Homo sapiens: one gene and its partner. The protein of the gene in region 2 purifies or fractionates together with the protein of the main gene of each other region. This does not show direct contact. Each region holds a gene or a part of one and is shown on either strand. Other genes may lie near its edges.

Region 1 (3,754 bases), on a different chromosome or scaffold from region 2:
AAGCCAGAGCCGTGGGAGGGGCTAGCTATGGACTGCATGCCTCTCCCTACGACTGAATTGAGCATCCTGTGAAAGGTTTGCAGTGGGGGAGGGACACAGACTGATTTGTGCTTTGGGAAGGACACTCTGGCTGTGTGTGTATAGAAGCAATGAAGGGGAAGGGGGTGCAGGGTGAGGAGTCAGAGACTAGGCGGAGGCTGCTGAGGTGACTGCTGTTGGGATGGGAAGAGCAGCTCAGATGCCTTTCTTTTCTTTTCTTTTTTTTTTGGGAGTCTCACCCTGTCCCCCAGGCTGGAGTGCAGTGGCATGATCTCGGCTCACTGCAACCTCCGCCTCCCGGGTTCAAGTGATTCTCCTGCCTCAGCCTCCTGAGTAGCTGGGACTACAGGCGCGTGCCACCACGCCCGGCTAATTTTTTGTATTTTTAGTAGAGATGGGGTTTCACCGTGTTAGCCAGGATGGTCTCGATCTCCTGACCTTGTGATCCGCCCGCCTCGGTCTCCCAAAGTGCTGGGATTACAGGCGTGAGCCACTGCACCCTGCTAGATGCTGTATTTTCTTATGGGGAGGGTCTGTTAGCAGGGGCCATCCTGACACTGCCTTGTGGCCAGGAAGGAGACAAACGAAGGCTGGCGTTTCTTTTTCTTTCTGCGTCTGCCTTACGTTGTGATCTTTGTTTAAAACTTATTCAGAATGGAAATGCTAAATTCCAGAGTAACAAAGAGTTTGTTGAACTCGTTAGAGTTACACATGATAGGATTTAACATTGTATTGAGATGTGTCAATAACATTCATTTACTTAGAAACGTCACATCTTCTGGATTTCCAGAGGAGTTTTATTCTTGATAAGTTTGCTTTCTTGATGAGGGAAAGTTTAATCCAGCTGCAGTTTTTCTTTAAAAAAAAAATCATCTATCTTAAGAAATATAACATTTAAAGGTTAGATGTATTTAAAAATGATAAAAGGAATACTTTGGTACAGTTTCTTTGGTTTCTGAGTTGATTAGGGACTCAGAAGCCTTTGCATTATTTAGTGGTATATCCTTGCCAATATTTAAAGAGCTGTTAGTGAGCACCCCAGGCCCTGCTCTCTGGAAGCTTTCCTAAAGCTTGCCCTGAAATAGCGAGGATGAACGTCTTGTTTGCTAAAGCCAAATGGTTGGCTAATAAGACTCAGCATAGCTGTCTTTATAAAATAATAAGAGGTTTGATGTTAAGAAGTGGAAGATAATTGATTTTTTTAAAAAGCTGAAACATAAACTTCCTTATGCTAATGTTACAACTGGAAAATCTAAAAAGAAAAATCCAACTGTAACATTGCCTACGTGAAAGACATGGTAGAAGTCCTTACGTACCGATCACCTTTAAACAAATTGCTTGGCAGTACATTTTTGAAATTAAGACCACTCCAGCTCACATAACTGGCAATGATTATTGCTGACTTAAAATTATAGAGCCTACAGTTGCCTTCTTAGCATTTTTAGTAGTGAGAGAATTGAATAGTGCTTAGTCAGAGTGCTTTCTGGGTGGGAGTTGTATAGTAATAAAGATACATTTTCATGTATTTTCTAGACATTACAAGAAGCGGTGCCAAGGCCGCATGCGGAAGCACGTGGGGGACCTGTGCCTGCAGGCAGGGATGCTGCAGGACTCCCTGGTGCATTACCACATGTCGGTGGAGCTGCTGCGTTCTGTGAATGACTTTCTGTGGCTTGGAGGTAAGATGAGCTGATGAAGATGATCTGATATGTAATTGTTTCAACTGTTAATTAAAATGAGAGGCTGGGTGCGGTGGCTCACGCCTGTAATCCCAGCACTTTGGGAGGCTACGGCAGGCCAAATATGAGGTCAAGAGATTGAGACCATCCTGGCCAACATGGTGAAACCACGTCTCTACTAAAAATACAAAAATTAGCTGGGCGTGGTGGCACGCGCCTATAGTCCCAGCTACTCGGGAGGCGGAGGCAGCAGAATTTCTTGAACCAGGAGGCAGAAGTTGCAGTGAGCAGAGGTTGCACAACTGCACTCCAGCCTGGCAACAGAGCGAGACTCCATCTCAAAAAAAAATAAAATAAAATAAAAAAAGAAATGAGAGGAAACGGCAGAAGAAATTCCCCAAAAAGAAGGGATGAGGGAGGAAAAGCAGCCAGCCTGTGCTGGTTGCCACGAGCAGTGGCCTGGGATGCTTCCCTGCTGTATCTGCTGCCCTCCTCCCACCCTGCCATGCGTCCTCTGAAGGAGGCCCTGCCCACACTTTCCCTTTTCCTCTGTTCTTAGTATACCTTGCCCTCTGCTTTGGATGCCGTTCCCCATGATCTTCACCTCTTAGACTCCTCCCTCAAAACCTCCTCCATGTGTCACATGATGAATGGATAAACGAAATGTGGTATGGGCATACAGCGGAATATTATTCAGCCATGAAAAGGAGTGAAATTGTGATACCACTGCAGCACGGATGAACCTTGACAACTTTGTGCTAAGTGAGAGAAGGCAGGCATGAAAAAGGCCGCAGATTGTATGATTCTATATATATGAAGTGGCTAGAATAGGCAAATCTATAGAAGCAGAAAGTAGACAACTGGTTCTAGGGGCTGGGAGGAGGGGGAATGGGAAGTGACAGTTAACGGGCATAAGGTTTCTTTCTGGGGTGATGAAAATGTTCCAGAGTCAGTTAGTGGTGATGGTTGCACAGTTGTGAATATACTAAAAACTGCTGACTTGCACACTTTAAGTGGGTGAATTATATGGTATGTGAACTCTATGTCAATCTTAAAAATTAAAAGAAAGGGAAGAAGAAATCCTACTTCAAAGCACAGCCATCTCTGATCCCCCGCAGCAGTCGGCAGAGCGGGTGCCCTGCCTGAGATGTTGCTGACACTTCGTGGTGGAATCGGATGTCTGTGTGTGGTCTTCCCTTTGGGGACTGCGCCTCCTGGAGGTGGTCCTGGGAGGATGGACTGGCTGAGTCCATTGTGTGGGTAAGGACTAAAACAGGGTTCTTTCGTTGAGGTTGACAGTTTAGCAAGGACACCTGTCAGCCACTTATGATAATACAAGTCGGAATGAAGTAATGAGGTGAGTTCTGTAACAGAAGTTTAACGAGGTGCCGTAGAACATATTAAATATAACAAATTCTTTCGTTCTTGGGGACGGAGTCTCGCTCTGTTGCCCAGGCTGGAGTGCAGTGGCATGATCTTGGCTCACTGCAATCTCCGCCTCCTGGGTTCAAGCGATTCTCCTGCCTCAGCCTTCCGAGTAGCTGGGACTTACAGGCATGCACTACCACACCCGGCTAAATTTTCTATTTTTAGTAGAGACGGGGTTTTGCGATGTTGGCCGAGCTGCTCTTGAACTCGACCTCAGCTGATATGCCTGCCTTGGCCTCCCAGAGTGCTGGGATTACAGGCATAAGCCACTGTGCCCAGCCAAATATAAGAAATACTTCAAACGGCCAGGCATGGTGGCTCATGCCTGTAATCCCAACACTTCTACAAAAAATAAAAAATAAAAAAATCTTACTTCACCTCACTTCTACAAAACAAAATTAAAAAACATTAACTGGGTGGAGACCAGCCTGAGCAACATAGGGAGACCTCACTTCTACCAAAATAAAATAAAATAAAATAAAATAAAAAGACATTAGCTGGGCTTGGTGGTCTGTGCCTGTAGTCCCAGCTACTTGTGAGGGTGAGGCAGGAGGATCGCTTGGGCTCAGGAGGTCAAGGCTGCAGTGAGCCACGATCGCACCACTGCA
Region 2 (3,754 bases):
AGAATCAATATCGTGAAAATGGCCATACTGCCCAAGGTAATTTATAGATTCAATGCCATCCCCATCAAGCTACCAATGACTTTCTTCACAGAATTGGAAAAAACTACTTTAAAGTTCATATGGAACCAAAAAAGAGCCCGCATTGCCAAGTCAATCCTAAGCCAAAAGAACAAAGCTGGAGGCATCACACTACCTGACTTCAAACTATACTACAAGGCTACAGTAACCAAAACAGCATGGTACTGGTACCAAAACAGAGATATAGATCAATGGAACACAACAGAGCCCTCAGAAATAATGCCGCATATCTACAACTATCTGATCTTTGACAAACCTGAGAAAAACAAGCAATGGGGAAAGGATTCCCTATTTAATAAATGGTGCTGGGAAAACTGGCTAGCCATATGTAGAAAGCTGAAACTGGATCCCTTCCTTACACCTTATACAAAAATCAATTCAAGATGGATTAAAGATTTAAACGTTAAACCTAAAACCATAAAAACCCTAGAAGAAAACCTAGGCATTACCATTCAGGACATAGGCGTGGGCAAGGACTTCATGTCCAAAACACCAAAAGCAATGGCAACAAAAGACAAAATTGACAAATGAGATCTAATTAAACTAAAGAGCTTCTGCACAGCAAAAGAAACTACCATCAGAGTGAACAGGCAACCTACAACATGGGAGAAAATTTTCGCATCCTACTCATCTGACAAAGGGCTAATATCCAGAATCTACAATGAACTCAAACAAATTTACAAGAAAAAAACAAACAACCCCATCAAAAAGTGGGCGAAGGACATGAACAGACACTTCTCAAAAGAAGACATTTATGCAGCCAAAAAACACATGAAGAAATGCTCATCATCACTGGCCATCAGAGAAATGCAAATCAAAACCACTATGAGATATCATCTCACACCAGTTAGAATGGCAATCATTAAAAAGTCAGGAAACAACAGGTGCTGGAGAGGATGTGGAGAAATAGGAACACTTTTACACTGTTGGTGGGACTGTAAACTAGTTCAACCATTGTGGAAGTCAGTGTGGCGATTCCTCAGGGATCTAGAACTAGAAATACCATTTGACCCAGCCATCCCATTACTGGGTATATACCCAAATGAGTATAAATCATGCTGCTATAAAGACACATGCACACGTATGTTTATTGCGGCACTATTCACAATAGCAAAGACTTGGAACCAACCCAAATGTCCAACAATGATAGACTGGATTAAGAAAATGTGGCACATATACACCATGGAATACTATGCAGCCATAAAAAATGATGAGTTCATATCCTTTGTAGGGACATGGATGAAATTGGAAACCATCATTCTCAGTAAACTATCGCAAGAACAAAAAACCAAACACCGCATATTCTCACTCATAGATGGGAATTGAACAATGAGATCACATGGACACAGGAAGGGGAATATCACACTCTGGGGACTGTGGTGGGGTTGGGGGAGGGGGGAGGGATAGTATTGGGAGATATACCTAATGCTAGATGACACATTAGTGGGTGCAGCGCACCAGCATGGCACATGTATACATATGTAACTAACCTGCACAATGTGCACATGTACCCTAAAACTTAGAGTATAATAAAAAAAATAAAATAAAATAAAATAAAAATAAATGAAAAAAAAAAAAACAAAAAACAAAAAAAGAAAAAAAAAAAAAAAAGACCCAAACAGGCCAATAACTATTAGTTATTATCTCTACTGAAAAAGTGGGACTTCCTGTTATGAATAAGGGAACTAACTGAATTCCCTGCTACCTAATTACCTTCTGTAGCTATACTTACTGACAAAAACACCATTAATTTTTTTAGATACCAATTTTTTTTAATACTATGAATCTTAAGGGAAAATGGCTTCACCTCAAAAATACTCTGTTACTTGCTTGGAAGATAGACGACTTTAAGCTGATGCTGATAAACTTGTGGCTTCCAAAGTTTTCCTTACTAATTCTAAACCCAAAAGGTGCCTGGCAGTCTCTGCTATGTCTGTTTCAAGTAACCCTAGCTCTATATCAGGAGACATTTTCCTTATAAACAGAAACATGGTAAATCTTAAGTTCCCTGCAATTGAAATGCTTGGCTGTGAATTTGATTTCATAATCAGAGCGGACTCTATAGTCTTTTCATTCAATATTCCTGCAATTAGATAACCAATCGCAGCCTAGAAACAACCTCCAAGGAGACCCAGTGACATTGCTCCCATAGTTGATGCAACAATCACCATGATGACCCAAGCTTTAATCACTCTGATGAACACTGCTCTCCTGCCTAGAGATACCACTGAGTCCAGAAGCAAGACCTGTGAGAGTGCACAGTGCCACTTCGCCCCATGGCTGAAGATGGTTTGCCCAAAATTTATTCTCATCCTCCAACAGAAAGCAGTAAAACACCAACTGCAGCAACCATTTTCTTTGGGGCTGACAATGCTATTCCCAAATCAGAAACAACTATTACTTCAGAAGGAGACCACGTCACTTCAGTAAATGAATATATGCTAGAAAGCGATTTTTCAACAACTACAGACAACAAACTGACAGCTAAAAAGGAAAAACTCAAATCAGAAGATGATATGGGGACCGACTTTATTAAGTCAACAACTCACCTACAGAAAGAAATTACCTCTCTGACTGGCACTACAAACTCCATAACAAGAGACTCTATTACCGAACATTTCATGCCAGTGAAAATTGGGAATATTTCATCACCAGTTACTACTGTTTCTTTAATAGATTTTTCCACTGACATAGCAAAAGAAGATATCCTCTTAGCTACCATTGACACAGGAGATGCAGAGATCTCAATAACCTCTGAAGTCTCTGGCACACTAAAGGACAGCAGTGCTGGTGTTGCTGACGCTCCTGCCTTTCCACGTAAAAAGGATGAAGCTGATATGAGCAATTATAATTCCTCCATCAAATCCAATGTCCCTGCTGATGAGGCTGTCCAGGTCACTGATTCCACTATTCCTGAGGCTGAAATCCCTCCTGCTCCTGAAGAAAGCTTCACTACTATTCCAGACATAACTGCCCTTGAAGAAGAGAAAATAACCGAAATTGACCTAAGTGTTTTAGAAGATGACACCAGTGCTGTGGCTACATTAACTGACTCTGATGAGAAGTTTATCACTGTGTTTGAACTCACTACCTCTGCTGAAAAAGACAAAGATAAACGGGAAGATACTCTGCTAACTGATGAAGAAACTACCGAGGGAGCCAGTATTTGGATGGAGAGAGATACTGCAAATGAAGCAGAGACCCATTCTGTTTTGCTTACTGCTGTTGAATCCAGATATGACTTCGTTGTCCCTGCATCAATAGCTACAAACCTAGTGGAAGAATCATCTACAGAAGAAGATTTGTCTGAAACTGATAATACAGAGACTGTACCTAAGATCACTGAGCCATTTTCTGGAACTACCTCTGTATTAGATACCCCAGACTATAAGGAAGACACCTCCACAACTGAAACGGATATCTTTGAACTACTGAAAGAAGAACCCGATGAGTTCATGATTTAAAAGCAACAAAAGGGATACCATGTAGAATTGTGCAATAGTCTAGCCAGCTAGCCTTAACATCTAAGAAATTTTTCCAACAAGCAAAAACCTTTAGAAATGAAAGAATGTGGGCATTTAAGGCAAGTATTCGACTCAATAAATGCAGATGCTTAGGACTACAGGTCATGTAACAGATTTACGGAAACTTAGAAAAAAAAACCGCAGTGTAAGGG

What was found.
Region 1: the proteins of CABS1 (region 2) and TRAPPC9 purify together in Homo sapiens (affinity purification with mass spectrometry; 3 studies listed by BioGRID and IntAct, with this or other methods). This does not show direct contact.

The regions. Positions count from the first base shown.
Region 1 is NC_000008.11:140,437,016-140,440,769, reverse strand, and holds part of TRAPPC9 (trafficking protein particle complex subunit 9), read left to right. Parts: intron 1-1,572; coding exon 1,573-1,718; intron 1,719-3,754. UniProt on the Homo sapiens protein: Functions as an activator of NF-kappa-B through increased phosphorylation of the IKK complex. May function in neuronal cells differentiation. May play a role in vesicular transport from endoplasmic reticulum to Golgi.
Region 2 is NC_000004.12:70,332,686-70,336,439, forward strand, and holds the start of CABS1 (calcium-binding and spermatid-specific protein 1), read left to right. Parts: upstream 1-2,295; 5' UTR 2,296-2,354; coding exon 2,355-3,542; 3' UTR 3,543-3,661; intron 3,662-3,754.